3 separate regions of the Homo sapiens genome follow, and all the other regions are linked to region 2. The links come from fine-mapping of genetic effects on gene expression. A gene starts in region 2. Each other region holds a variant in brackets. All regions are shown on one strand. Distances are between the middles of the regions. Region 1 overlaps LOC124901144 (a long non-coding RNA gene). Region 2 holds the start of TSPAN17 (tetraspanin 17). Region 3 has its middle 35 kb from the start of TSPAN17.

What was found. PIP is the estimated chance that this variant, and not a neighbour inherited with it, causes the effect.
Region 1: its variant is the best candidate, but not a certain one, in a credible set for the expression of TSPAN17 in whole blood (INTERVAL, PIP 0.73).
Region 3: its variant is the best candidate, but not a certain one, in a credible set for the expression of TSPAN17 in CD4 T cells (BLUEPRINT, PIP 0.79).

What each region holds. Positions count from the first base shown.
Region 1 is chr5:176,666,359-176,674,520 of GRCh38, forward strand. It overlaps LOC124901144 (a long non-coding RNA gene), which reads left to right. Exons shown (of 2, transcript XR_007059072.1): 2 at 319-1,169. Among named protein-coding and RNA genes, the nearest start is that of TSPAN17, 23 kb to the left of the region's middle. RefSeq lists a silencer at 26-252 and enhancers at 5,242-5,807, 5,808-6,371. The variant G/A (reference allele first, on the strand shown) is at 5,631.
Region 2 is chr5:176,645,113-176,653,610 of GRCh38, forward strand. TSPAN17 (tetraspanin 17) reads left to right here and starts at 2,372. Exons shown (of 9, transcript NM_130465.5): 1 at 2,372-2,590; 2 at 6,504-6,554; 3 at 6,642-6,788; 4 at 7,631-7,801. The coding sequence starts at 2,504. EIF4E1B (eukaryotic translation initiation factor 4E family member 1B) reads left to right here. Exons shown (of 9, transcript NM_001099408.2): 7 at 18-131; 8 at 265-404; 9 at 754-1,532. The coding sequence ends at 868. RefSeq lists enhancers at 195-705, 976-1,270, 3,632-4,501, 4,619-6,417 and a silencer at 1,944-2,603.
Region 3 is chr5:176,677,413-176,688,068 of GRCh38, forward strand. No RefSeq gene overlaps it. Among named protein-coding and RNA genes, the nearest start is that of TSPAN17, 35 kb to the left of the region's middle. RefSeq lists enhancers at 2,461-3,421, 3,422-4,381. The variant G/T (reference allele first, on the strand shown) is at 2,798.

The DNA of each region.
Region 1 (8,162 bases), 21 kb after region 2:
TGACTCATTTTTTTTTTTTTTTAGTAGAGATGGGGTCTCACTATGTTGCCCAGGCTTATTTCGAACTGCTGGACTCCAGCGATCCTCCCACCTTGGCCTTCCAAAGTGCTGGGATTACAGGCGTGAGCCACGGCGCCCGGCCTGAGCTTAAAGTTATACAATAAAGCTCAGTACTGAAGCAGGAGGCAGCCAGCCCAGCAGGCAGGGACGCTCTAGAATTCTTTCAGGGCCTGAGACCTAAAACCCACGTATTTTTTTATGGGCAATTTAAGCAATTTTCAAGGGTGATCTTGACTGTTCTTTTGATTTTTGTCATAGGTGCTGACCTCGCTATCAAATACCCAAGTTGGATGTTGCTGCCACAGATCCTGTGGGCTGAGGCGTGCCCTGGACTCTCACGGGACAGGCGCTGGCAAACCAGGGGAGGGTCTCACATGAAAGGACCACAGCAGACTCGTCCCTTTGTCAGAGGAAAGAAATAGAATACTGTTTGGATTACAGATACTAGTAAAATATGATCTTGAAAAAACATTTGATAAATTACAGCAGGAATTTATAATTTAAAAAAAATCGCCAGGCGTGGTGGCTCACGCCTGTAATCCCAGCACTTTGGAAGGCTGAGGCAGGTAGATCACCTGAGGTCAGGAGTTCAAGACCAGCCTGTCCAACATGATGAAACCCCGCCTCTATTTAAAAAAAAAAATTAGCTGGGCATGATTGCGCATGCCTGTAATTCCCAGCTACTCAGGAGGCTGAGGCAGGAGAATCGCTTGAACCTGGGAGGCGGAGGTTGCAGTGAGCCGAGATCGCACTATTGCACTCCAGCCTGGGAGACTAGAGCAAAACTCTGTCTAAAAAAAAAGAAAAATCACAATTTCTTAGCAACTAGAAATAAAAGGAAATTTCTTTCACCTGATAAAGGGCACATATCAGACATATGGAAGAAACTTTATACTTCATGTTGAAACATCAGCAGCAGGAACAAGACAAGGATGCTGACTCAGTGCTACAATTCAGCACCGTCATAGAGTCCTAGCCAATGCAGTAACACAAGAAAATAAATAAGAAGGATAAAAATTAGCAGGGAGGAGACAAGGGCAGGAACCATCTCTGTCCTCTTGTTTCCAATTAAGCAGATACCTAATAAATTTTATTAAATTGGAGGAAAATTCATTGTATCCTTAAAGAAGGTTCTTGAAGGTAACAGAGCAGAATGGATCCTTTAGTAGCTAAAGTCTGAAATATTCAGTGGTCGTCAAGAAGTTCCATTGGTCATGGACCTGCCAAAAAGATAGAAGCACGATAAGACCAGAGAAGCATGAGAGAGCCCTTGGGATGCCAGGAAAATTGTTTTCAAAATAATTGGTGTTGATCCAAAATCAGGGGCATGATGTTTGGGTCGGTGGGGTCTCTGTGGCAGAGGACTCAATGGCCCCTGGATTCTGAAGTGGGAGCACGGGGCTGGGGGAACAAGCCAGGCGGTGTCTTCCAGCCAGGGGGAGCTGCAGGGAGAAGAGGAAGTCTTTTCACTCTTTGCCCTGGGATACTGAACGTCAGAATATGTTGCTGTTTTCCATGGGGTTCTAGAATATTGAGTTTAATTCCCACTTCTCGTTTATTCCCTGCCAGGTTTGGGTTCTTGATGTGTCTATGACACACTCAGGAAAGGTAGCCCCGGCTCAGGGCAAGCTGTGTGTCGGGTACCTACTGCATCTGCCTGGTCCCCATCTCTCCCCCAGCTTCTGGTGGCGGCACCTAGATTTTCCTTTGGGGAGAATCCCTCCCTCCTTGATTTCTGTTCTCCAAAGGGAGTGGCATAGGACCCAGGCCTGACATCAGCACATTCCATGGCCTTGGCTGTGGAGAGGCACAAAGGATGCCTGCTCCTGGGTCCTCACTGGGACAGAGAGGCTCCGCTCCCTCCCTTGGAGTTCTAAAAGCTGTTGGTGACCACCTTCCTGCCTGTGGTCCCAGAGTGAGGCTGACAGAGAAACATAGAGTCCAGAGAAGGTGGGCAACCTTGGCTTGGTGATGGCACTTGAGCTGTAGGTGTAGCCATATCTTATGGCAGAGCCATTGTTTTGTCTAAGGGGGTCCGAGCTGGGTTTCTGTCATCTTCAACTGAAAGTCCTGATGGACATAGTGGGAAAGAAGGGAGAAGCTGAAGGCCTGGGTCAGACATGCCCTGTCTCGGGGGTGGGGGCGAGATGCAAACCACTTCCAGATGGAGCCCAAGCTTCTTCCTCTGTCCCATAGCGCCCCTCCCAAGGGAGCTGATCCCGAGATCCCTAGAGGAGTGGAGGAATGATCAGGCATCATGCTAAGGAGTTTTTGTAAAGTCAATTTATTGAGTCTAATTTACATACATCGAAGTCTCCACACTTTAGGTGCATATTTCAGTGGGTTTTACAAATTTATTCCCCTGTGTAACCACCAAGATAGAGAACATTTCCATCACCCAGAAGGTGCCCTGTGGTCCTTCTATGTCAATCTCTGCTCCTACCCTGCTGCCAAACAAACATTGAGCTGCTTTCTGTCACTGCGGGTTAGATTTCTATTTTTTTCTCTAAAGTTTTGCATATAGTCAATCCTCAGTATTCACGGATTCCATATTTGTGAAGTTGATGACTTGCAAAAATTTATTTGTAACCCCCAGATCAATCCTCGTGGCACTTTTGTGATCATTCCTGGACATCAGCAGAGCACTGAGAAGTTTCGTTTGTGGATGCACACATTTCCTGCGGAGGTCAAACTCAACGAGCGACTTTCCCCCGTCTACTCAGGGCCACCTTTCCCGCATTTTTGTACTTTTTGTTGGGGATTTCGCTGTTGAAAATGGCCCTCAAGCATCAGAGTGAGGCCCTGGCTGGTGCTCCTTGATGCTAGAAGGCTGCGATGTGTCTTACAGAGAAAATGCATGTGTTGGATGAGCTTTGCTCAGTCATGAGTTATAGTTCTGTGGCCATGAGTTCATGCTCACAGATCAACAGCCTCTATATTAAATAAGGTGTCTTTAAACATAAGAACACATGCCACAGATGTATGCATTGGTCAGGTGACCAAAATCTTGTGAGCAGAGGATCTCAGGAACCTAACTCTGCATTTCCCTGGGAGCAATGCTTCCATACCAGTGAATTCAGTGTTCCCGGGAATGTCACAGAACATTACTGCCAGGCATGAGAGCCGGTCATATATGCAGTCATACAGATGCCACCTTTTGAGTCCGGTTTCTGTCACTTAGCATGACGCTGCTGAGATTCATCCCTGTTGTTCTTTTTGTTGCTGAGGAGTATTCCATTGTGGGGCTACGCCAGCTTCTCCATTCACTCAGCAGTTGATGGAGCATTTGGGTTCTTTCCAGTTTTTGGTGATCATGAACAAAGCTGCTGTGAACTTTCGTGTACAAATCCATGTGTGGACATATGTTTTCATTTCCATTCTAAGTGTCAGCTTAGGAGCACATACATTTATTACTTGCTTAATGCTTGCAGTAGCCCTGCAAAGCAGCCTCATTTTATGCATAAGGAGCTGGGCTCGGAGCAGAGCTATGGTGGCCTGCTGAATATCACATGGCTCACAGCAACTGGCACTGGCGCACAATCTCTTCCCTGGGGGAGGCCTGGGGGTCCCTATTCAGAGTGGCCCCATGGTGGGTGGGAGGGCCTTGGCTCTGTCATTGCCTCTCCAGGGGCCTAGAGGTCCTCAGCTGCAAAGTGCAGATTCAGTCCCCTCTGAGATCCCTGAGCTCCAAGCCTGTGATTATGGGGCCTGAGCCACAGCAGCGGGCTGCACCCCAGCCCCACTGCAGCCCTTCACAGGCTGAGCAGGGCTACAGCCAAGACTGACAGGCTGGGTGGGCTGGCTGGCTGGCTTCTAGGGCTTCAGCTGCCCTGAATACATTCCCCTGCTGGAGGTGACGCCACCGGCTTTTGCTTTGGGGGCTCATCCTCCTCTAGCATTTGCAGGGGATGAGCTGCCACCAAGGCCTTACACTCTCTGGAGGAGCTCCACATGCTGAGGGCTTGGCTTGTCTGGCCCTTCTCTATGGTGGGGCTTTGATCCCTGTGCAGAGAACTGACACAGGGACTGAGAAATGGCCAGAGCAGGCTCTAGGCAGCCTTTGCTCTGCACCCTTTCCAGGTTTCTGTGTCCCAGCCATCCAGTGAGCTGCCTGACAACCTCCCAAAGCCTCGCAGAAGCTTTCCGTTGCTTGCGCTCAGCGATCCCTGCATGCCACAGTGGATGCTCCCCTCCCTCGAGCCCCTGAGGCCTCAGCACCAGCTTGTCTCTTAGCAGGCTCTTCCCCTGGACTCCACCTCCTGCCCATCTGTTGGCTCAAGGAAGCCCTGGACTGGGGACAGCCTGGTACTTGACAGCAACTGATGCAGAGGGAAGAGCCCCAGGTCCGGGGAACGAGGACGAAGATCTGGGTGCTGAGTTGTTGCTTGTCCTCTGGGGCTCATCTTCCTCATCTCTAAAATGGGTACCATTTCCACAGTTTCATTCATTGTCATTGACCCCATCTCCTGTGGGTCCCGGCACTGTCCCTGAGGCTGGAAATCAGGGGAGGAGAGGGGCCCAGACAGGCCCCTGCCCTGATGGAGGAGAGGCAGATGCACTGTTGCAGATCTTGGAGATGACAGAGGAAGTCCCAATGCTCTGGGGACCAACTTGGGGCATTGTCCATGTTTTGGCCAGTCCTGGTACCAAAAACTGACTTTGACTACTATTTTTTTTTTTTTTTTTGACAGAGTCTCTCTCTGTTGCCCAAGCTGCAGTGCACTGGTGCAATCTTGGCTTACTGCAACTGCCTCCCAGGTTCAGGTGATTCTCCTGCTTCAGCCTCCCAAGCAGCTGGGATTACAGGCACCTGCCACCACACCTGGTTAATTTTTTTTTTTTTTTTTTTTTTTTGTATTTTTAGTAGAGATGGAGTTTCACCATGTTGACCAGGTTGGTCTTGAACTCCTAACCTCAAATAATCCACCTGCCTCAGCCTCCCAAAGTGTTGGGATTACAGGTGTGAGCCACAGTGCCCGGCCTGACTTTGACTGCCTTAATGCAAGGGGGAATTAATTGGAAGGAAAGGGCAGAAGTCAGGGCCACGCTGGGGAGCTGGGTGGTGAGAACTGAAGGAAAGTCTCTTTAGGGTGTGGCCACTCAGATAAGAAATCCTGCTGAGATTCAAAATTGCACAGAGGGGTGAGTACCCACCAGGGTGGAGGGTGGGTCTCATGACTGGCAGGCTGCCAAGCTGGCCTGCAGTGGGCTCCCCGAAATGTGGGGGAAATGCAGGGAAGGAAAAAGTCCTAAGTGTCCCCTGGTTGGGTGGAGTGGGAGAGTGGTGTCAGGTGAGGCTTGCCGGAAGCACTCAAATGCATGGGAAACAGAACTGTGAACTCCAAGGGGCAGAAACAGCAGAAGGCTTCGGCACTGTGAGCCTCAGAAGTGGCCGGCACCTACCCAGTGGCCAGCCCAGGGAAGGACTTCCCACCTGTTCTCTGATCCAGCGTCTCCACACGGGGGACACTTGTGAAGTTTACGTGGGACGAAAGAAGCCCAGCACATGGGCCTTGGCAGTCCCACCTGGCCCCACCTGCTAGGAATTTAGAAGAGAGCTGCAGAGACCT[G/A]GCACACACAAGGCTACCGTCCAGTCACTGAGGTGTGTGGCAAGGGCTGGGGAATGCCCGAAGAGGCGACCCACCTGGACGGCAGGCAGGGGCTTTCAAAGGAGGCCAGGAAGGCTGAGCAGTGTAGGGCCAAGGCTGTGGCAGAAAGGAGGGCATTCCTTGCGTGAGAGACCCTGGGTTTTGATTCTTGGGCCCTGGCTCTACCCTGTGGACCTTGGAGGGAGCAGGGGCCTGGGCAAACAGAGGTGACCTGGGGGTGCGGCAGGAAGGGGAGGGTGGGGTTGGGGAAGAGCTGTTGTGCGGGGCAGGCAGTGGGGAGGCGAGGAGATGGGGTAGGGGGTATGCAGGCCCCTGCAGGTCCTGCAGAGGACACCCCAAGGTTACCTTGGCCTGTGGCTCCGCGGCTCAAGGCTGCTGGCAGCAATGACAACAGCGAACCAGCAGCCTCTCCGAGTTTTATTATCATTCAAATGAGGACGTGGAGAGGTATTTCATTTGATTGGTAGAATAATAGGAGCCATTTATCTACCTTCTCTCAACCTTTCATATCTGTTTCACTATTTTATGGGATCGCATACATCATAGTAAAGGCAAAAATGTATTTTTTTCCCTTGACTTGGGGCTGGGGGGGGCAGCAGGGATGGGAAGGAGGCTCTCAGAGTGGCTGGCAGGAGCTGAAGGAAATGAAATCGAAAAAGACTATTATTGGTGACAGACAGTTACATCTGAAAGGGAATAAGAAACTCCCCAATGCGGGCACAGAGAGGAGTTTTAAATGGAAGATCTAACAGCCTCCAGCTCTAGGTCCATTGAGAGGCAGAGGACTGAGGGAGGCGTGAGGGGTGGGGGGCGAGACAGGGGGTGTGGCGGGGCATGGGGCGGGGGGGCTTCAGGGAGCCAGGAGGGTCCTTGAGGGAAACAGCAATGAGGCTGGCACAAGGGGCATGTGGTCCAGCTGTTGGAATTCTTTGTCTTTCTTGGGTTATGATAAATTACACGTGTCATACAAGGATCCATTCTCCTTTTGAAAACACTAGAACATCACAGGTAAAGACCCTGTGACCATCAGCCCCAATCCCAGCGCCCTCTACCCTTCCCAGAAGTAACAACTGTTAAGATTTTTTCCTCTTGATTTTACAAATATATAAAGATGCCTTAAAAGAGGTAATACTCTTTTGTGAATTCCCACCCCACCATCCCCCTCCCTTTTTTTTTTTTTTTTTTTTTTTTTGTTTTTTGGGACAAGGTCTCACTCTGTGGCCCAGGCTGGAGTGCAGTGGTGTGCTCTCAGTTCACTGCAGCCTTGACCTCCTGGGCTGAAGTGATCCTCCTGCTTCAGCCTCCAGAGTAGCTGGGACTACAGGTGTGCACCACCACACCGGCTAATTTCATTTTTAGTAGAGGCGGGGTCTCCCTGTATTCACAACCCAGGCTGGTCTTGAATTCCTGCGTTCAAGCCATCTTCCCAAAGTGCTGGGATTACAAGCATGAGCCACCACACCTGGCCCTTTACCCCTTTCTTAAAAGGTGTCACGCTGTCTCATTCAGCTCCTTGGTTTTTCTCACTGGACATATTTTTGAGCCTTGTGTGGGTCTGGGTCACTCCTGGAGCTGTCCGGGGTGCTCCTGTCTGTGATTGTCCTGTGCTGTAGCCCCCGGTGCCCCCCGATGAACCCTTGGGTGGCTTCCAGCTTTTCACAATGACAAAGAATGCTTCGAGGGGTCTGGGCAAGGCTTTCTTGAGGGCAGGTGAGCAGTGAACTCTCCGGTGGGGAGGGGTGCATTTTCAGCTGGAGGAGACACTGTCCCATTGCTGTCCAAAGTGTCTGTGGTGGGGCTGCAGCCAGCTGGCCACCGCGAGGGGAAGCGCGCAGCTGTTCTTGCACGAAGGTTCCCCATGAGGTCGTCTTGGGCAGCAAGTTGGTGGCAGAGAGGGGAACAGCAAAGCCCTGGCTGGACAGGGTGTCAGAGCAGAAGTGGGAAGGCGGGACCCACAGAGCTCCAGGGGACCCCTGGAGCTCCAGGTGCAACCCCACTGGGTGGGGGTGGGTGAGGTTCCTGGGAGGCACGCAAAGGGCAAACGGGCAAGACCCGGGATGTGAAGGCTGGCTGCAGGCTCGGGCTGGGTGAGAACCAGCAGCACTTGGTGTGGCTGGCAGGGTAGCCCGCCAGCACAGCCAAGGGGGCAGGGTAAAGGCAAAACTCAGGTCTCTGGGTGGTGCCAGCACAGGGCAGGGGTGTGCAGAGCATGGGCATAGAGAGTCCTCCAGGGGCCCTGGCTCCCTGACAGCAGCACAGAGACAGGGAGGGGGTTCCCTCCGAGCATGGGAGACAACTCAAGGCCTACCAGGTATGGGGCTGAGGCTCCCTGCTCAGGCCCCCCATCCCCCACCATGGGATGGCACTTGGTCCCAGCCCTCAGAGATGTGATGGGAGCAGGTGGGGGAAGGAGGCGGGTGGCCTGGTGGGAACTGGGCTCTCTATCCTGGGAGACTCTTAGGTTCCGGAACCCTCTTAAGAGTCCAGCTGCAA
Region 2 (8,498 bases):
TGCCATCTGCCTTGCAGGATGGCATCCAGCCCATGTGGGAGGACAGCAGGAATAAACGGGGTGGCCGCTGGCTGGTCAGCCTGGCCAAGCAGCAGCGCCACATTGAGCTGGACCGGCTGTGGCTGGAGACGGTGAGTTGGAGGAGGAGGGTCCTCAGGGGAAGAGACGGGCTGTGTGGGTCTCATGGTGGCAGTGGTCTCAAGGATGGCAGGCCAGTCCCTATGTCCCAGCCGGTGATCTCACAACCCCCTACTTCGGGTCCAGCTGCTGTGTCTGATCGGGGAGAGCTTTGAGGAACACAGCAGAGAGGTATGTGGGGCCGTCGTCAACATCCGCACCAAGGGGGACAAGATCGCTGTGTGGACGAGGGAGGCGGAAAACCAGGCGGGCGTGCTGCACGTTGGGTGAGGAGGGTCTCTGGCACAGGGTGGGGACTTGGGTCTCTGCTAGAGGGAAGGTGGGTGGAGGGGGCTTGGCCTGCATGGGAGACCTCTGAAAGTCTCCATAGCCTCCCTCCCTTCTGCCTTGCCCACCTGTATGGAAGGTCTGGCGTTCAGATTTCTAACTTTCTCTTACGGCAGTGCAGCTCTCCTTTTGCATTAAGGGGGTCATATTTTGGGTTTCCACATGGGTAAGACACAACAGGTGTGGCTGTGGCCAGAATGAGGGTAGGAGTCTGGTGGCCTAAGTTATCTCTAGGACCCTCTGATGACTACCTGTGTCTCTTTTCCTCTGTGTCCCCCGCACCTGCAGGCGTGTATACAAAGAGCGCCTGGGCCTCTCCCCAAAGACCATCATTGGGTACCAGGCCCATGCAGACACAGCCACCAAGAGCAACTCCCTAGCCAAGAACAAGTTTGTGGTGTGAGGGGGGCCTTGGCACCCCTCCTATGTAATGGGACAGCCGCCACTGAGCCTCATTACTTTGGGGGATGGGGCGGGACTGGGGATCAGACAGCCTAGTTCTTACCTGTCCTCAAGTGAACAGGAATGCAAACACTCTTTAACATGAGTTGGGGCCTGAGCCTTAGGGGCTAGATGGGGGTAGTGGTGGCAGTCTGAGGACCTAGCTTGTCCTGGGGCCACAGGACAGCAGCAGGGTGGAAAAAACTCCTGAGGGTGGGGTGAGTCATGGCGGGGAAGGAGGGCTCTATGGTAGGCGGAGAAACCCATAGTCCAGCGTTTACTGTTTCCACCCAGGAAGGAGGTGAGGTGGCCTGAGAGACAGACTCTTCCATGGGTGGTGGGCTCAAGGGCACAGACATTCTGGAGGGTGAACGCCATCATTTGTACAGAGGGATACGTGGGTTGCTGAGGACTGAGAGAGCCTTGCAAGGCCGCTCCCCTTCTCCCCAGCTGTGACCAGGGCTGTCTGGGCCTTGCCTGCCTCAGGGCCAGACTGAAGTGGAGGTGGAGGGATGCTGGGCTAGGCCTCACCAAGGTTCTGGTAGAAGTGGTGGAAGTGGATAAACTTGATAATAAAAGCTTAAGCATCTTTCTGTTCCTGTTTTAAATAAATACTTCTGAACAAAGTTGGAATTATTTTTAAGAGGGCTTCAAACTGGAGTAAGATTCAGGTTCCCCCAAACTTTGATCTGCCTCTGTCCTGTCTTACAGGGGCTCATGTGAGATCACTGGGTACCAAGGAGCCTGACCGGGACCCTGGCCAGTATGGAGGACAGGGGGTGTGGCTGGGGAAACTCAGCCACCAAGGGGGCTTGAGCCAGGTTCCGGGGGGCATATGCCCCTGGCAGGGCGCAGCCGGCGTGGCACCAAGGCCCAGGCCCTCGTTTGGCCTGAGTTTGAGTCAGGATAAGTAGAGCTGGATTTCCGCTGGGTGAAGGTGAGCCTGATGCGACTCCACAATGACAAAACGTCCTGCACGTGTTAAAAACTCAATCCGGACCAGCTTCCCCATTCGCCTGCCAGAGCAGCAGTTAACCTTCCCCTGGGATGGGCTCCAACAGCAGGCTGGGGATTGGGATGGCGCTGGTACCCAGCAGGGGAAGCAAGGCTTCTACACCCCGGCGGCCTCCGGCGCCATCAGCCGGCGTCCCGGGCGGGTCTGCAGGACGCTGGGAAACGCGGCGGCGGCCTGCGCGGGGGCGGGGCCTGGCCGAAGGCGGGGCTGCGAGGAGGTCCGAATCAGGCTGTGGGGGCGGAGCTCGGGAAGCGGAGCCAGGTCCAGAGGCGGGGCTCAGGCGGGACTGAGTTGATCTATGGGGGCGGAGCCAGGTCAGGAGGCGGGACTCCAAAGGGACTGAGGGCTGTGGGGGCGGGGCCCGGTCCAGAGGCGGGGACAGCAGGGCTCCGGGCAAGGAGGTCTGGATGCTGAGGGCGGTCCCTGAGGGGCGGGCGGGGCCCGACCGGCGCTCTGTGTGGCCGAGGCCATGAAGCCGCAGCCGCCCGGCTAGGCCCCGGGCGGCTCTAGCCCAGGGCGGCCCGCGGGGCGCTGGGCCTGGCTCCCGGCTCCGGTTTCCGGGCCGGCGGGTGGCCGCTCACCATGCCCGGCAAGCACCAGCATTTCCAGGAACCTGAGGTCGGCTGCTGCGGGAAATACTTCCTGTTTGGCTTCAACATTGTCTTCTGGGTGAGCGCGGGGTCTGCGCCTTGCCCTGTGCTGGGGGGTGGTGGGAGAGGGAGATTCAGTCTTTTGCTGGGGGAGACCACTCCCTGCCCCAAGAGTTTGGAGCTCGGGACCATCCCCCCACTTCTGCCACACCCACGCCCACTTCCAGGACCACCCGAGGTAGCTACAGAGGCCCGGATTGCTGGGGGCGGGTCCTAGCGACAGCGTGGGGTCGGGGTTGGGGTAGGGAGTCTCCCTAAATAATCCCGAGGCCTGGTGGAGAAAGGGAAGGTGTTTCCTTGAAGACCCCAGGGGCGTGCTAGGTGCAGGTTGCCCCCTCTCGCCCAGCCCTCCTTCCTACCCTGGGATGTGGGATGCGTGCCAAGCCCCACCCCTGGTTTAGCCGGTAAGGAGATTCTGGCGTGAAGGGAGCCGCCAGGCCCCTTCCCCGGCCTCCTTTCCCTTCCAGTAGTACCTGGGTCAGGTGCCTCACCTTAGGCTCCTGCAGAGTGGGGTGGGTCACAGTCCTCTGCCCACCCCAGTCCCGCACAAGGAGGCTGACCTGCCAGGAGGGGCAGGGAGGGACAATGGCGAGTCCTTGGCGGCTGGGAGAGGATCTCCCCGGTTGAGAGCCTGGGAGCTGGCCTTGGGGAACAGAATTCAACATTCCACAGCTGACAAGCTGAGGCTCCTGGGCGGGTCTGCCCCTACCGGGGAAGGGAGCTACTAGTGCCCCTCCCAGGGTGGCATCTGTCCCCCTGGGCCCTGCCAGGTCATTTTTCCCATCTCTCCAAAGCCGTGGCCCTCTGCAGTCTCTGCTCCTGAGGCCTTGGGTCAAGATGCCAGGCCTTTTCCCTTGTGTTCAGCAAGACTCAGTGGCACTGCCCCCCACCCACGTGTCACCGAGCTCACTGGTGTGGTGGGTGTCCTTGCACTGCAGCGCTAGGCTCTTGAGGGTGTGGGCAGTGTGTGGGAGCACTGGCAAAGAAGTCAGAAGGCCTGGCTGTAGCAGGCCTGGCTGGGACACCTTGGGCAAGTCATCTCTCCTCTCCGGGCCTCAGCTTGCCTGCCTGGGAGACGACGATAAAGAATCTGCCTGTGAGGGCTGTTAGGCAGATACAATGAGTTCAATTTGTTGTATTCTCACAACTGCCTTATTATCTGCATTTTACAGATGGGGAAACTGAAGGAATAGACACAGAGAAATTAAGTCACTTACCTAGGGTCACACAGCCAGAAAGTACAGAGCCAAGGTGACGGCTTAGTGGGCAGAGGGTGGAGGTGAGGCAGAGCTGTGAGCAGAAGTAACCTCAAATACCGAGGGGGAGCAGGCGTGAGAGACCCGGGTTTGTTGCTGGGGCGGAGCGTGGGGTGTTATGTTAAGGTGGCATGGAGAAGCGAGGGCTTCCAGTGATGGGTCTGATCTGGCTTCTGTTCTGGAGACCGCTTGCCTGGCTGCTGTGTGGAGGGTGGATGAGGGGCAGGGCCTGGAGGTTTGGAATGGGGGCAGGGCTGGGGCAAAGCTGGGATGGTGAGGTGGGAAAGGTGAGGGAGGTTGCTGGGAAAGTCAAGAGGCTGAATTGACTGGGCTGGGTCACTTGGGGGCTGGAGGGAGGATTTCAGATTTGGGTTAAGGTGGCCTAAGGGAGGCTGCTTGTGGAACAGGCACAGAGGTTTTCATGTTTAATGTCAGGCAGACCCTGGTGTTGTTCTGTTTGGAAACTGCTTGTGGTTTCCTTTTTTCTTTTTTCTTTTTTTTTTTTGAGACAGAGTTTTGCTCTTGTTGCCCAGGCTGGAGTGCAATGGCACGATCTCGGTTCACTGCAACCTCCGTCTCCCAGGTTCAAGCGATTCTCCTGCCTCAGCCTCCCAAGTAGCTGGGACTATAGGTGTGTGCCACCACGCCTGGCTAATTTTGTATTTTTACTAGAGATGGGGTTTCTTCATGTTGGTCAGGCTGGTCTCGAACTCCTGACCTCAGGTGATCCACCTGCCTTGGCCTCCCAAAGTGCTGGGATTACAGGCGTGAGCCACCACGCCCGGCCATCCTGCTCGTGGTTTCTTACTGCTCCTAGAGTACTGTCGGCCTCCAGGGCCCCGCGGGGCCGGGCTGTCCGCCCTTCAGTTTGTTCCTTGAACTAGACGTGGTCTTGTGTCAGGGCCTCTGCCTGTGCCCTACCCTCCTCCTGGAACAGGCTTTTCCCTCTTGCTCTTTTCATCATTCAAACCTCAGCTGAAATGCCCCCACCCTCCCTTCTGCCCTCTCTAAAGCTGGCGTCCAACCCCAGCATCCCCCATCTCGTCGCCCCGCTCGATATTTGTTAAGGGGTCTGTTTGCATCTGAGGTTTCCTTGTCTGCTCACTGACTGTCCATCTCCCCTGCTGGAGTGTAAGCTCCGTGAGGGTCGAGTCCGTCCTATTCACCAGCGAATCCCCGGCATGGCGGCGATCAGTGCCGGTGGGTCGTGGAGGTGTTTGCTGCAGGCGGGTGGACGTAGGGGTGTGGGACCAGCATGAGGTCTGGGTGGGGATCGGGAGATGCCAGCGTCATGATGGGATGGAAGACGAGCGTGAGGAGGAAGAACGGCAGAAGGCTGAGGCTGGAGGCCGTGGGACCAGCCACAGGTGGTCCCTCCAGGAACACAGCCCTCCAGGAACTCCTGCTGGAGGCTGAGAGCTCACTTCCCAGCTGTTTTCCCAAAGTGCTTTAATTGTATTTCCTTGGCTCTGATTGGCTGCCTCTGGACCAATCCCCGGGGCAGGTGAAGGCGGAGCATCCTGGGAAGGAGCTCGGGGAGGAATGGGGTTGAGTTAACTGAGGTGGGGTTCAGGAAGGAGAAAGTGGCACTCAGTCCCCTGTCTGAAGGCCAAGGGCAGGCCAAGTGGGAGGAGGCAGGAGAAGTGATGTTTGGTTTCACATCAGCAGACCCAGCAGGCAGGAGGGAAGGGAAGATGTTTCCAGAGAAAGAATAGAGCAGTGTGGGGAGCCCACGGTCAGGGAAGGGAAGGTGATAAAGGCCTTGGCCGTGGCTATGTGCTGAGGGGAAGGAGCCTGCAGATAAAGCAGGTGGGTGGGGAGGTCGCAGGAGGTGGGGTCATGGCCCTGGGCTTGGGTACGACAGCCTTTCCCCCTCTGAGACTGCACGCCCAGGGACCTGCCCAGGGTCAGGTGTGAGAGTGACCAGCCTGGACATCCAGGGCTCTTCCCAGTAGGGAATTGAGGCAGGAAGGTGGGAAAGCTGAGGATGGAGGAGAGGCACTTGGACTGCCCCGGTGGGGAGTCTAGCTGGTGTTCTGAAGGCCCAGGCAGAGCTGTGGCCATGGGGCAAAGCCACTGGCACAGGCCAGATCCTAGGTGGATCCTGCTAGGGATGATTGAGATTCCTGTCATTCAGGGGTGTCTGGTCGTGAGCCGTGGAAGCTGACTCTGGCAGGCGGAGGTTAAAGGGGTAGGATGGGGCTGGGCTGGGGAGGAGTGTTGAGGGCGGGGCCGCAGTCACACGGCTTTAGGGTAGCAGGAGAGCTGGACTTGGCAGGGTGCAGAAAGGAGGCTAGGAGCCTGGAACCCCAGCACCAGCTTCGGTCAGGTGTAGAGGCTCAGTATACTGGCGCCGTCGCTACCCCCGCTGACACAGCTGCTATTGCTCCTTGGCAGGAGTGTCTTGGCCACCGTCTGCTCCAATTTGGAGTTCCAGGAAGGGGCCCCTGATGTCCATCCCAAGGCTAGCAGAGGGTTCAGTCCTCCAGGCTGTGTCCTGTGGGGAAGAAGCACTGGGATGTGTTCTTGGGAAGATGGAAAGGACCCCGGATCCCGTTCACAGCCCTTGTGCCTCTTCCTCTCTCCGCTGGAAAGGCCCTGGCTACCGGGGAAGGATGAGGGGGGAGGGTCCTGGGGCTGCTCCCAGCCCTGAGCTCTTTGTTGCTGCCCTTGCAGGTGCTGGGAGCCCTGTTCCTGGCTATCGGCCTCTGGGCCTGGGGTGAGAAGGTAAGGCAGCGGGCGGGCGTGGAGCTGGTATGGGACGAGGTGGTGGGAAGGTCAGCTCCCCACACCTGCCTCTGCTGCCCGGCACAGGGCGTTCTCTCGAACATCTCAGCGCTGACAGATCTGGGAGGCCTTGACCCCGTGTGGCTGTTTGTGGTAGTTGGAGGCGTCATGTCGGTGCTGGGCTTTGCTGGCTGCATTGGGGCCCTCCGGGAGAACACCTTCCTGCTCAAGTTTGTGAGTGCTGCCCTCAAGATCCCCTGGGAACCCCCATCTCCTCCCATCCAGTTCTTGCAATACAGTTGGAGCTTAATGATGGGTAGCTTTATTATTATGCTATAATCGTCATCGTTAGATTCATGTTGTCTATATTTACTAGGATCCTTTCCGTGGTATGGTAAGTGACCGAGACCTGGTGGCCCAAGCATAAAATATTTATTGACTCAAATAAGAAAAGTCCAGGGTTGTGCTGGCTGCCGGTGCATTTTGATCCAGGGGCTGCCACAGTTTCACTTGGCCTGGTTTCTCCCTGTTTCTCGGGCTCCCCCCGTTTGGCTCCATTCCCAGGTGGCAGGAGGCTCAGGAACAGAGCCGGCTTCCCCATGCCCTCCCAGGAACTCCTGCTGGAGGCTGAGAGCTCTCTTCCCAACCGTTTTCCCAAAGTGCTTTAATTGCGTTTCCTTGGCTCTGATTGGCTGCCTCTGGACCAATCCCTGGAGGCCGAGGGAGGCAGTGCTCTGATTGGTGGGCTTTAGGCACTTGCCAGTCCTGTATCTGGGACTGGTGGGTTTGGGGAGGTGTCTCCATCCGAACCTTGGAAACTAAAGGTTTGCATGGAGGATGGTTTTTCAGAGACAGCAGGGTGTGATTACCAGACAAAGGGAATTGGATGGGTAGGTAACAACAGATGCCTATTACCATCATATAACAATACTAAAATAATAGAAGGTGGGGGCTCTGGGCGCCTCTGGGTCTTGGTGGAGGTAGGGATGGAGCCCTTCCCTGTGGCACACCCAAGCCCTGGGAGGTCACCAGAGCCCTGCGTTTCCAACCCCTACTGTCTGTATGCCCAACCCCAGTTCTCCGTGTTCCTCGGTCTCATCTTCTTCCTGGAGCTGGCAACAGGGATCCTGGCCTTTGTCTTCAAGGACTGGATTCGAGACCAGCTCAACCTCTTCATCAACAACAACGTCAAGGCCTACCGGGACGACATTGACCTCCAGAACCTCATTGACTTTGCTCAGGAATACGTGAGTCCAGTGTCCAGCCTGGGACACCTGTAGGAGGCGCCTTCCTGGCAGACGAATGAGGGAGCAAGTTCCCTGTGATGGGACCATCTCCTTACCCACCTGGGCTAGCGGGCCCCAGGAGAGAGACCCAGGAGTGTCCTCGTCCGAGGAGAGCCAGCCCCTGCTGATCCTTATGGGTCCCCATTTGCCTAGTGCCATAGGGCCACGGCCTTGGGAAACAGAGGGCATGGGCTCCACGCTAGCAGCTCCCAGGCCAGGGCCTACGACACACGGGAGAATGGAGGAAATGTGACATAAAATATAGATTTCTACTTCTGCTAAACCTTGGGCCCACGGTATTGGCTGCAGCTATGTTGCTGCTGCCCCTTCACTGGTACAGAGGCTCTCTGTTTGCCATTGTTCCCAACACTCTGTATTTTATTATATCTGTCAGCCCTTATCTCTCATTTATACTATGTTTGGCCTCTGTGTATATTAGAGTTTAGACCCCTGATGGAAGGTCTGCCCTCAAACTTACAAACTTAACCCCAGTGAAGAGCAGCCAGAGAAGAGTTCCTGAAACCCTATCTGCCTCCCACCTGCACCATCTCGCCCACTCACCCCTAACCACAAACACACAGTCACACACTGTCACCCACAGTCACAACCACACCTAGTCACACACTCGCAGGCACACTTGATCACACCTACACCTACA
Region 3 (10,656 bases), 33 kb after region 2:
AGGTTAAACATTGTCTAGCTGTGGAGGACAGAAGAATATAAGGAACTAAGGGAGAGGGCTCTCCTGGGCTGGGTGGGGGTACGCCTGGGGAAGGATAAGCCCCCAGGGGCAGCTGCAGCTCTGATCTCGGGATTGGTGGGGCTGAACCTCATTTCCTGGGAGGGGCAAGGTCCCCAGGTGCCCTGTGCCCTGAGAAGGCCAGGAGACTCTAGACAGGGAGTGAGCGGTGGTGGCTCAACAGAGGGCCTGTGACAGCCCAGCGAGCTCCCCAGCCCCAGTGCCCTGTAGGGAGCGGCCAAGTTCTCAAGGAGGGCCTGGAAGGGAGTCCCAGTTGTGACAAGAGGAGGCCACAGCCAAAACTTGCTTGGCCCTTACAAGCAGAGACCAGATGGGGACGCAGACAGCTCATCGGCTGCCAACTCGGAACAGAGATGACAGCCAAGAACCACATGTCCCAGTGTATGTCTTGGGGGTGCCAGCAGGGATGACATCGACCGATGACCCATCTGCCACCTCCCCTGATGTTTATGATGTCACCCATATTTGCTGGGATCTGTGGGGTCCAAGAGATGGGGGAGGGGGCCCTGAATCTTCTGAGTTGAAGCTGACAGAGCTGAACTGAACTCAAGACTTTTCTGCTACTCAGTAGAAAACGGAGGTTGGAAAGGAAGCATGCATATAGTAGGAAAGTAAGGTGGTGGTTTTGGCACACCTGCGTGAGTGGCCTGAACATTCACACCCACAATCCAGGGCTGAATGAGGGACAGTGAATGCAGCCTTTGGTGGGGTGGCTCTTCCTCCCCGTCCCTGGTCATGTGATGGGCACTGGTGTGTACCTGAGCATTTCCTCCTCGCTCTCCCTCCTGGGGGTAGGTGTCAGGGGAACAGAGAGGGCTGGGTGAGTGGTGAACACAGCCATCTATCTTCCTGCTCCCCAAGTCCCCCTTTGGTGAGGATGTTGCCAGGAGCAGGCAAGAGCTGGGAGGGCAGGTAGTGATGACTAGGAAGGAAAGAGGCAGTCCCGGGTGCCTGGGTGACCTGGTGGCCAGAGGAGAGGGAGAGGCCTGGAGGAGGCTGGGACAGAGGAAGGCTCAGAGGAGGCACTGGGCGGTGGTCAGCAGACTTAAGAGCCAGAATCCACTTCCGGTTCCTGGGCATATTCCCTAAGCAATCGGAGCCTCCGGTCCTCACCCCAAACAAGGTGGGCTCCACATGTCTGCCTGGCCCACATCTTTCTCCTTCCTGGTTCTCACTTGGGAAACCTTCATCTCCCAGTAGTTTAGGCAGTGCTGACCCTGGCCTCTGGCTTCAGGCCTGGCCAATGGGGCTATATTCTTGCACCCTTGTTGGAACTGTTGGCCGAGGGAAGCTGGCTGTCTGCCAAGATGGCTGAGCTGAGCAGTGAGCGCCCGTGGGCCCCTCCTTGCTGATCTCCCCAAGCTGGGCCCAGGCCCCTGCCAGGCCCTTTGCACCTGCTGCTCACTTCCCTGGGGTGCCTTCTCCTCTGACCTTCACCTTCAGCTCCTCTCATCTGAGGCTCAGCCCAGTGGCCCTACTCAGAGAGGCCAACTTGGCTCCCTTTAAAGCAGTCCCCAGTCCTGTCCCAGGGCCTTCCCTATGTCTGCGTTTCTTCCCAGCACTCACCACCATCCGAGATGAGCTCCTGAGCTACTTTAACTGACCATCTCCTCCTCTGATATCAGCCGCCAAGAGCAGGGACCTTGTTGCGCTCCTTCCCAAGCCAGGGCCCAGCACAGAGCAGAGGCTCAGCAGTCCCTGCCTGGACACCGAATGCTACTGAGAACTCTGTGCCTGGTGTGGGGCAGAGTCTCCAAGGTCACAAACCCATCTTGGGGGTGCAAAATCCCTGCTAAGGTTTTCTAAAACAAAACTTAATTTCTGTCTTGAGTCCCCATTAGAGTAAATTCAGGATAAATTTGGCCCATTTTGGGGTGTTCTTGGTCCATTTGTGGTTGCACTCAGGTGGAGGAGGGACCCAGGAAGGGTCAAGGCCTCGAGTGGGGCCAAACTCCCCAGACATCTGTGTGACCTCAACGCTGCACCCACAACCCAGGGGTCTCTGCCTTCCACACTGGCTCCACATAGTCCTCCGTCCTGCCTGGTACAGGATCCATCCCTGCCGCATGCCCCTCTTAGACCACCAGGGTCCCCCGTCACGTCCCAGGACCAATCTGGTGACCCCTCTGCTTCAAGACATACATTCTGCCTCAGTGGGGGCACATGGGGACTCTAAGTTACCCCCATCCATTCTGTCCAGGCCCCTCCCACAGGAGTTAGGAGGGGCTGTCTTGGTGGCTGGTGACCTGATGAGTGGGTGTCTCCGTGGGCCCCACTGCTCCCCTCCGAACATCCCCCTGCCTGGGATCCCCAGACTCCTTACAGGGCCAGGCTAGCTCCTCTCCCTGTCACCCTGGGGCTCTGCCAGCTACCAGGCAGGAGGCTGTCAACACCGGGAGGAGGACATATCCGAGGCATCTCGGACGCCAAGCGTGAGTGAGCAAGGCTCGTCCTGCTAAGGGTCTGGGGACGTGACTGGGTGTGCAGAGGAAGAGAGAGGCCAGGCTCAGGCTTCATCTTGTTTAATCCGTGGAGGACCTAGGGGATCCCTGTTTAGACCCCTGCAGGCTGCAGTGCCGCTCTGCTCCGGCCTTAGCGCCTCCCCGCAGCTCAGAGGATGGGACTGGGGTCCAGCTCCCTGCCCGCCCCGCACCCCGTACCCCGCAGCCTGTCCGTCCATCCGCCCCGCTTCACTTCGCTGTCCCCTGTCGGGGTTCGA[G/T]TCGCAGCCTCCAGCCTCAACCCGCACCTCCCGCCCTGCAGCTCAACTCTCGCCTCCGCTGCAATTTATTACTGGAGGCCGCAGAACCAGCGGCGTGGAGTGCGCCTCCCGGGAGCCGCCGCTGTCGGAGAAAGGCACCCACCCGCCTGGGCCGGCTCCCGGGCGCGGGGCGGTGTCTCAGGGAGGCGTCTCAGCCGAGCTGCAGGGCGAGGGGAGCGAGCCGGGTCCCGGGGGAAGGCATCCGGTCAGGGCCTCGCCCACCCGGATGGCTCCTGCGCCACGGGGCCTGAGCTCCGCCTTTGGGATCCGCGAGGATTGGAGACTGGGGACCCGGCAGCAGAGGGTCCAGGCAGAAAAGCTCCGTGTGGCCCCCAGGGAGGGTGGATTTAAAGAAAACCAGTCACATTAAAAAGCCAGGGTTCATGGAAATACTTGGACTGCTGGCTTCTCCTGAAAAACGGGCAGTCGACACCGGGTGGCCTTCCACAAGGCAAACCTGGGGGGCAGCCCCGTTTAGAAGGCCCGGCTGCCCTCTTCAGTCACCCAGCGCCTCGCCAGACCCCAGGGGACATTGGGGCTTGAGACCCCTGCTCTGCGTGGGGCACAGCAGAGGCCAAGGGAGACTGTGGCCCAGCTGTTCCACGGGCTTCTGGAGGCCAAGGACTCTCTCTTTTTGTTTTTATCTTTGTATATTACTCTGGTACATAAAGGCTGGCATATAAAAGTGTTGAATAAATAAATTTTCAATGAACAGCTGAATGAATGATGATGGTGATGAATGAATGAATGGATGGTGATGACTACCCAGAATTATAATCAAGTGGATGAGACTCAACCACTTGAAAAGGTGAGTCCACATTGCAGGCCAAGGAAGCAGAGGTGCAGAAGCTGGGGGCCCCTGAAGGAGTCCAGGGCACTTGGGGTGGAGTGGGGACCAGGGCAGCGTGGCTGCCCAGGGGTGGCAGGAAGGCCAGGCTGAGGGGCTGGAATTTGAGCTTCCTGGCTGCTTTACTATCCAGTCACCTGAGCTTTAAACACCCCAAGTCTGGGGCCACCCTCCAGGCCCAGGAAATCAGACTCTTCACCGGTGGGTGGGGCAATCTGTGCTTTAAAAATGTTGCCGGTTGGGCGCGGTGGCTCACGCCTGTAATCCCAGCACTTTGGGAGGCGGAGGCGGGCGGATCACGAGGTCAGGAGATGGAGACCAGCCTGGCCAACATGGTGAAACCCAGTCTCTACTAAAAATACAAAAATTAGCCGGACAGGGTGGCGCGCGCCTGTAATCCCAGCTGCTAGGGAGGCTGAGGCAGGAGAATCGCTTGAACCCGGGAGGCGGAGCTTGCAGTGAGCCGAGGTCGTGCCACTGCACTCCAGCCTGGCGACAGAGACAAACTCCGTCTCAAAAAAAACCAAAAAAGTTCTCCCAGGAGATTTTGGAGCCCCCAAAAGCTGCATGGCGGGGAAGTGATTATCTGCCACGGGTCTGCTGCTGCATCCATCCCTCTTCCTGTCCCGCCTCCCAGGGCCGGGTGTCTTTCTAAAGCCACGGGTCACCTTTCTGAGTGGTGGTCAGGCCCTGGGGGTCCATCTTAGCCACTCACCGTATTTTAAGTAAGTTTTAGAGGGAAGGAAAAGTATGAAATGACTGTGTTTGTTTTGCCCAAGCAAATCCATTTATAAAGTGCAGCACTTGTTTAAGAAAAAAACAACAGCTATTGACAAAATATAAGAAAATAAATTAAAGCCGCAGCTTCTTAAAAGGACCCTGTCCGATAATTTGATTTTTTCCCCCTTCTTCCCTCAAAGGCCAGAACGACACAATCAATCTTGCTGTTCCATAGGCTGTCTCATTACAGCTTTTTCTTAAGTGGAAAAAGAAAAAGAAAAAGAAAAAGAAAAAGAAAAAAAGTGGAAAGAAACTGAGTGCCATCTACAGCACCATCACCTCCTGCCCTACAGTAGATCCGCAGGGACCCTCTGTCTCCCCTGCCCCAGCCTTCTTGTCCTGCTGTAGCCCAGCTCTGACCCCCACCCTACCCCAGCTATGCCCTCCAGATGGGACCAATCAACTGGTCTTAGATGAGACTGGTCAGCTCAGAGGCCTTCCCGCCAAATCTCATGACCCATAGACTCTGTGGGGATCCTATCTTAAGTCGTCAAGTGGGTCAGTCATCAAATTTCTCATCCTGACAGCCTCATCCAAATAACTGACATTTTTCATGAGTAAAATACATAGCAGAACGCAGGTGTGCTGAGGGCTTTGCACACCCGGGTGAAACCCCTCTGCATGCAGCACTTTGCTTCCAACATAATGCAGATCTCAGGTGGAGGAGCTCCCACCACCTCCACCTCCTTATACGACCCTCTTCCTCAAATGTTGCCCTGCGTGGTTACCATCCATCCCGTCAGCCACACACACTGGGTGCCTGCCCAACATTGATGGCACTCTGATCATCCCCCACGATGAGGACAGGTAAGGTTTTTAGGGAATAAAACCAGTTTTAAAAGGCAGTCCCACCTGTGTTTAGATCCAAGGCCATAGCATGTCCTTGGCCAGATCACTGCCTCCCTGTGAGTTTCTCCATCCAGAGAGCGAGGTCAATAACACCCAGGGGTGGTTGTGAGGATTGAATGTGCAGCCATATGTAATCATCATCATCATACTTTATAATCGAGCACTTGCTCGTTGCCTGATCCTGAGTCATCATTCCTTTCTGACATTATCAGATTAAGTCTTCAGTTCATATTATTTGCCTTACTTTACAGGTGAGAAAACAGACATGCAGAGAGGTTAGGTTAATTGCCTTTGGTCTTATAACTAATAAGAGGGAAGGGTTTTTTATTGTGGGGGGTTTTCTAGAACCTGTGCCCCCCTTGCTTGTTAGTCCCCGTTTCCCTCTGGAAAGTTCCCCACCAAGTGTGGTCTTTGAGGAGAGCAGTGATGGTGCTACCTCTCACAGTGGAAGCTCTAGGGCAGCTTGTCCCAGGCTGTGGGGCCAGAAGTAAACTCAGCTGAGACCCTCAACCAGTCTTCAGTCCTTGGTGCTCTCAGATTTGGTCCCCCAGCCTCCGTGGATTCAGATAACCCCAAATTTACCTTCCCTTTTTGCTTAATATGGGCAGAGTCTCTCTGTAGCTTGCAACCCCAGGACTCTGCTTGCAACAAAATGAGTAATAATAATAATATACCAAAAGTAGCTATTATTTCTTGAGCATTTATTATGTGCTAGGTCTTGAGATAAAGAGCTTTATAGATGTTACGGTGTCTCAACCTTGCTACCTCATACAATTGTCCCTGTTTTACAGGCAAGAAAACTGAGGATCATATACATTTGGATTCTTGCCTGGCATCACACAGCTGGATGGAGGGCCAGGGGCTCAAACCCTGAGCTGCCTGAGCATAAGTCTGTGAGCATAAAACTCTGTTGGTGTGCCTGACATAAGAGGCGCTTACTCGGTGATGGCTTTAGCACCATGTATGCATGCACTGGGTCTGTTAAAAATTAGTGGGGAGGTTCTAGTTGGAGGTAAGATGAAGTAGACACACTCCACCTTGTCTCTCCCACAAAATGCAGCTTCAAACCTGGACTAATTGCATGAATTACCTCCTTTAAGTCTCTGAAAAAAAGACCAGTTATCAAAGTAACACCAAATTGGTGGTAAGTTTACTATTTTTCCCCCATCCAATATCCCCTGAATTGAAACCCCTGAATTCAATGCAGCCAAAAACCTTGAAGTGGATATCAGCATCTATAGAGAGATCTCCAGGGAAAACCCTCTGATTCTGGCTTCGGGACCAAGAAAGGGGTCTTCCACTGCTCCCGGTGAGTGAAGAAGCCTCCTATTTTTTTTTCTTTTTCTCTTTTTCTATTCTCTCCTGCCACAGCCCCTAAGCAATGATGTGGCAGTAGCACTAGCAACAGTAGCAACAGCAGCAGCGAAAGCTGGCGGGAACCTAAAACTCTAAGGAAGGGGAATTTTCCTCTCCAGTTGGAGGAGCCGTGGTCCATGAAGGTGGGGCAAACCCCTGCTGCTTTGCTATCTCTGGTGCTTGGGCTCAACTCATACAGTCACAGGAAATGCATGGCAGAGGAGAAATAAAGCCCCAGATTTCTGGCCCAAGCACTGGACAAGGGGAACCTCAGTGAACCAGAAAGTATAGGAGAGATCTCAGAGAGAGAAGAGCTGGAAAAAGTGATCCCTTAAAGTTGTTTGTGAAATCCTGGGCTCCTTCCCAAAATGTGCATGATCTGTACAGGATTAGACCTTAAACTGCATACTTGAGAACTGAACTACGGGATAGTGCACTGCTCAAATCCCAGATTAGCCATGGGGTGGTACATACGGGGCAGATTCAAATAGTGAAATAGCAAAAAAATAAAATAAGTAATAAAAAAATGAATAAATAGCAAAACTTTGTAAATTGAACTGACATTGGAACCACAGGCCACAGGAGGCTGTTGGGAACTTATGACCTGAACTCACCTGGATCATTTGCCTGCTAACAGAAAAATACCAAAAATTTCTCTATATAGAAAGAACCAGGAGTGGCTGGGCACAGTGGCTCATACCTGTAATCTCAGCACTTTGGGAGGCCAAGGTGGGTGGATCACCTGAGGTCAGGGGTTTGAGACAAGCCTGGCCAACATGGTGAAACCCCATCTCTACTAAAAATACAAAAATCAGCTGGGTGTGGTGGCGTGTGCCTATAATTCCAGTGACTCAGGCAATTCCAGCTATTCAGGAGGCTGAGACGGAGAATCGCTTGAACTAGGGATGTGGAGGTTGCAGTGAGCTGAGATTGTGCCACTGCACTCCAACCTGGGTGACAGAGCAAGTCTCCATCTCAAAAAGAAAAAAAAAAGAACCAGGAAAGGCTCAACTCACTCAGGAAAAGATGCCAATGCTGAGGCTACTTTGCTGAGATATCAGACTTTACAGCATCTATTATGAAAGTGGTGCAATGTGTAAGAGCAAACACTCTTGAAATGAATGGAAAGTCTCAGCCAAGAAACAAGATACCAAGAAGAACCAAGTGGAAATTTAGAACTGCAAAAGACAATAACAAGAATCTCCCTGGATGGGCTCAATAGCAAAATGGAGATGATAGAGGAAGAATCCAGTGAACTTGAAGATAGATCAATAGAAGTCATCCAATTTGAATGACAGGCAAAAAAGAGTGTTTAAAAAATGAGCAGAACTTCAGGGACCCATGAGGAAACACCAAAAGTTCTAACATTCTTATCATTTGAATTCTGGAAGGAGAGAAGAAATAAATAGGGTCTGGAAAAAATATGTAAAGAAATCATGGTGAAAATTTTCCAACTTTGGTGAAAAACATAAACCTACAGATGTAATAAGCTCAGTGAATCCTAAACAGAAGAAACCCAAAGAAATCTGTGACCAGAAAATCATAATCAAACTTCTGACAATGAAAAATGAAGACAAAATCTTGAAAGCAAGCCCAAAAAAATGACACATTTCCTATAGGGGAAAAATGATTCAAATGACTCTGGATTTCTCATCAGAAACCATGAAGGCCAGCAAAAGTGGAACGACAGTTTTAAGGTGCTTAAACAAAACAAAACAAAATAAGAAAAGAACTGTCAAATCATAAGTCTTTAGAAGAAATACCTTCTGGATGAAGGTAAAATAAAGACATTTTCAGATGAAGGAATGCTAGGAGGATTTGTTACTGGGAGACTTGCACTAAAAGACTGCTACAACAAATTCTTTAGACAGAAAGAGATCATAGTAGAAGGAAATGTGTAACATCAGGAATAAATGGAGAGCAGAGGAAATGGTAAATATTTGGATAAATATAATAGGCTATTTTTTCTCTTGTTGAGCTCTTTAAAATATGTCTGACGGTTAAAACAAACAAACAAAAAAACATTGTGTGGTAGGGTTTTCAGTGGCTGTAGATGTAATATAGAAGACAAATATAACATAAAAGGGAGAGGATAAAGGGACCTACACAGCAGTAAGTTCTTTACACTTCACATGAAGTAGACTGAGAAGAGTTAAGTATGTCTATTGCATTTTCTAGAACAACCTCTAAAAAAACTATTCAAAGAGATATAGTAAAAAGTTAAATAAATAAATTAAAATCAAATACATTCATAGGAAAACAAATAACTTAAGCCTTACATTTTACACAAAAATTAACTCTATTTTTTCTTTTTTGAGGAAGGGTCTCATCCTGTCTCCTAGGCTGGAGTGCAGTGGTCAATCACAGCTCACTGCAGCCTTGACCTCCTGGGCTCAGATGATGCTCCTACCTCAGCCTCCTGAGTAGCTGGGACCATAGGTGTGCTCCACCATGCCTGGCTATTTTTTTTTTTTTTTTTTTTTGAGATGGAGTTTTGCTCTGTCACCCAGGTTGGAGTGCAGTGGCGCGATCTCGGCTCATTGCAAGTTCCACCTCCCGGGTTCACGCCATTCTCCTGCCTCAGCCTCCTGAGTAGCTGGGACTACAGGCGCCTGCCACCATGCCCAGCAAATTTTTTTTGTGTGTTTTTAGTAGAGACAGGGTTTCACTGTGTTAGCCAGGATGATCTCGATCTCTTGACCTCATGATCCACCCGCCTCGGCCTCCCAAAGTGCTGAGATTACAGGTGTGAGCCACCACGCCCAGCCATGCCTGGCTAATTTTTTATTTGTAGAGAAGGGGTCTCACCATGTTGCCCATGCTGGTTGGTCTCAGACTCCCTGGCTTAAGTGATCCTCCTGCCTTGGCCTCCCAAAGTGCTAGGATTACAGGTGTGAGCCACCATGCCAGACCTCAAAAATGGACTCTAAATAGATTATAGATAAAACTTTTGAATGGAAACATAGAAGGTCATCTTTATGACCTGTGATTAGACAAAGAGTTTGTAGGCATGCTATTAAAAACAGTCTATAAAAGGATAAATCGAGTTTCATCAAAATTAAAACTTTTGCTTTGAGAAAGAGACTGTTAAGAGAATAAAAAGACAAGCTATGGACTTGGAGAAAATATTTACAAACCACATATCCAACAAGAGATTTGTATTCAGAGCATATAAAGAACTGTCAAAACTTAACAGCAATGTCACGGAATCTTTGGGGTGTCACTTTCTGGCCTGAAACCTCTGGCGGTGGTGCCTTTGCCCAAGTTTTGCTCAGGCCCACTGGCTTGTTCCACCCACTCGGCCTGGCAGGCTGCACTCGGCTCACACTACCAGCCTGGATCCCACATCTGCCAAGGACGAGTCAGGCGTGGAGCGGTGAGGGGTGTGTGAGCAAGTGTGGGGTCCCGCCTCTGTGCAGTCAGACACACCTGCAGTGGGGAGGGCAGCACAGGTGCCGGCTCTCTGTGAGGCTGTGGCTGGACCAGGTGCATTGCAGGTAGCTTCCCCGGCTGGCACTGGGAAATGCAGTGGCACCCAGAAGCTTGGAGATTCCAGGCACTGCAGGACCCCAAAGAGGGAGTCACAGCCCTAGCTCAGAGAGGCCTCCCAGGTCTGGGCTCCCTAAAGGGCTGCAGGTCTTCTCTCCTCTTCGCCTGCAATGTGGTGAGCAAGGGCCGTGTTTCAGCCCTGTTCATGTTATAGCTCTTTTAGCTCCACCATTTGGCGGTCCCGAGTTCTTCTCCTGCAGCCAGAAAGAATGAGGTATGCAAACAAGTGCAGGGTGAGCAAGATGAAGAAGAGCTTACTGAGCAACAGAACAACTCACAGGAGACCTACAGGGGGTAGCTCCTTTCTGCAGCCAGGGTGTCCCAATGAGTGTTCAGCTCCTAGCAGAGAGGAGACCCTGGAGTGTGAAGCTCCTCTCTGCTGCTAGTCATCCCACTGTCTGCTCAGCTCTGGCTGAGCCCAGGGCTTTTATGGGCCTCA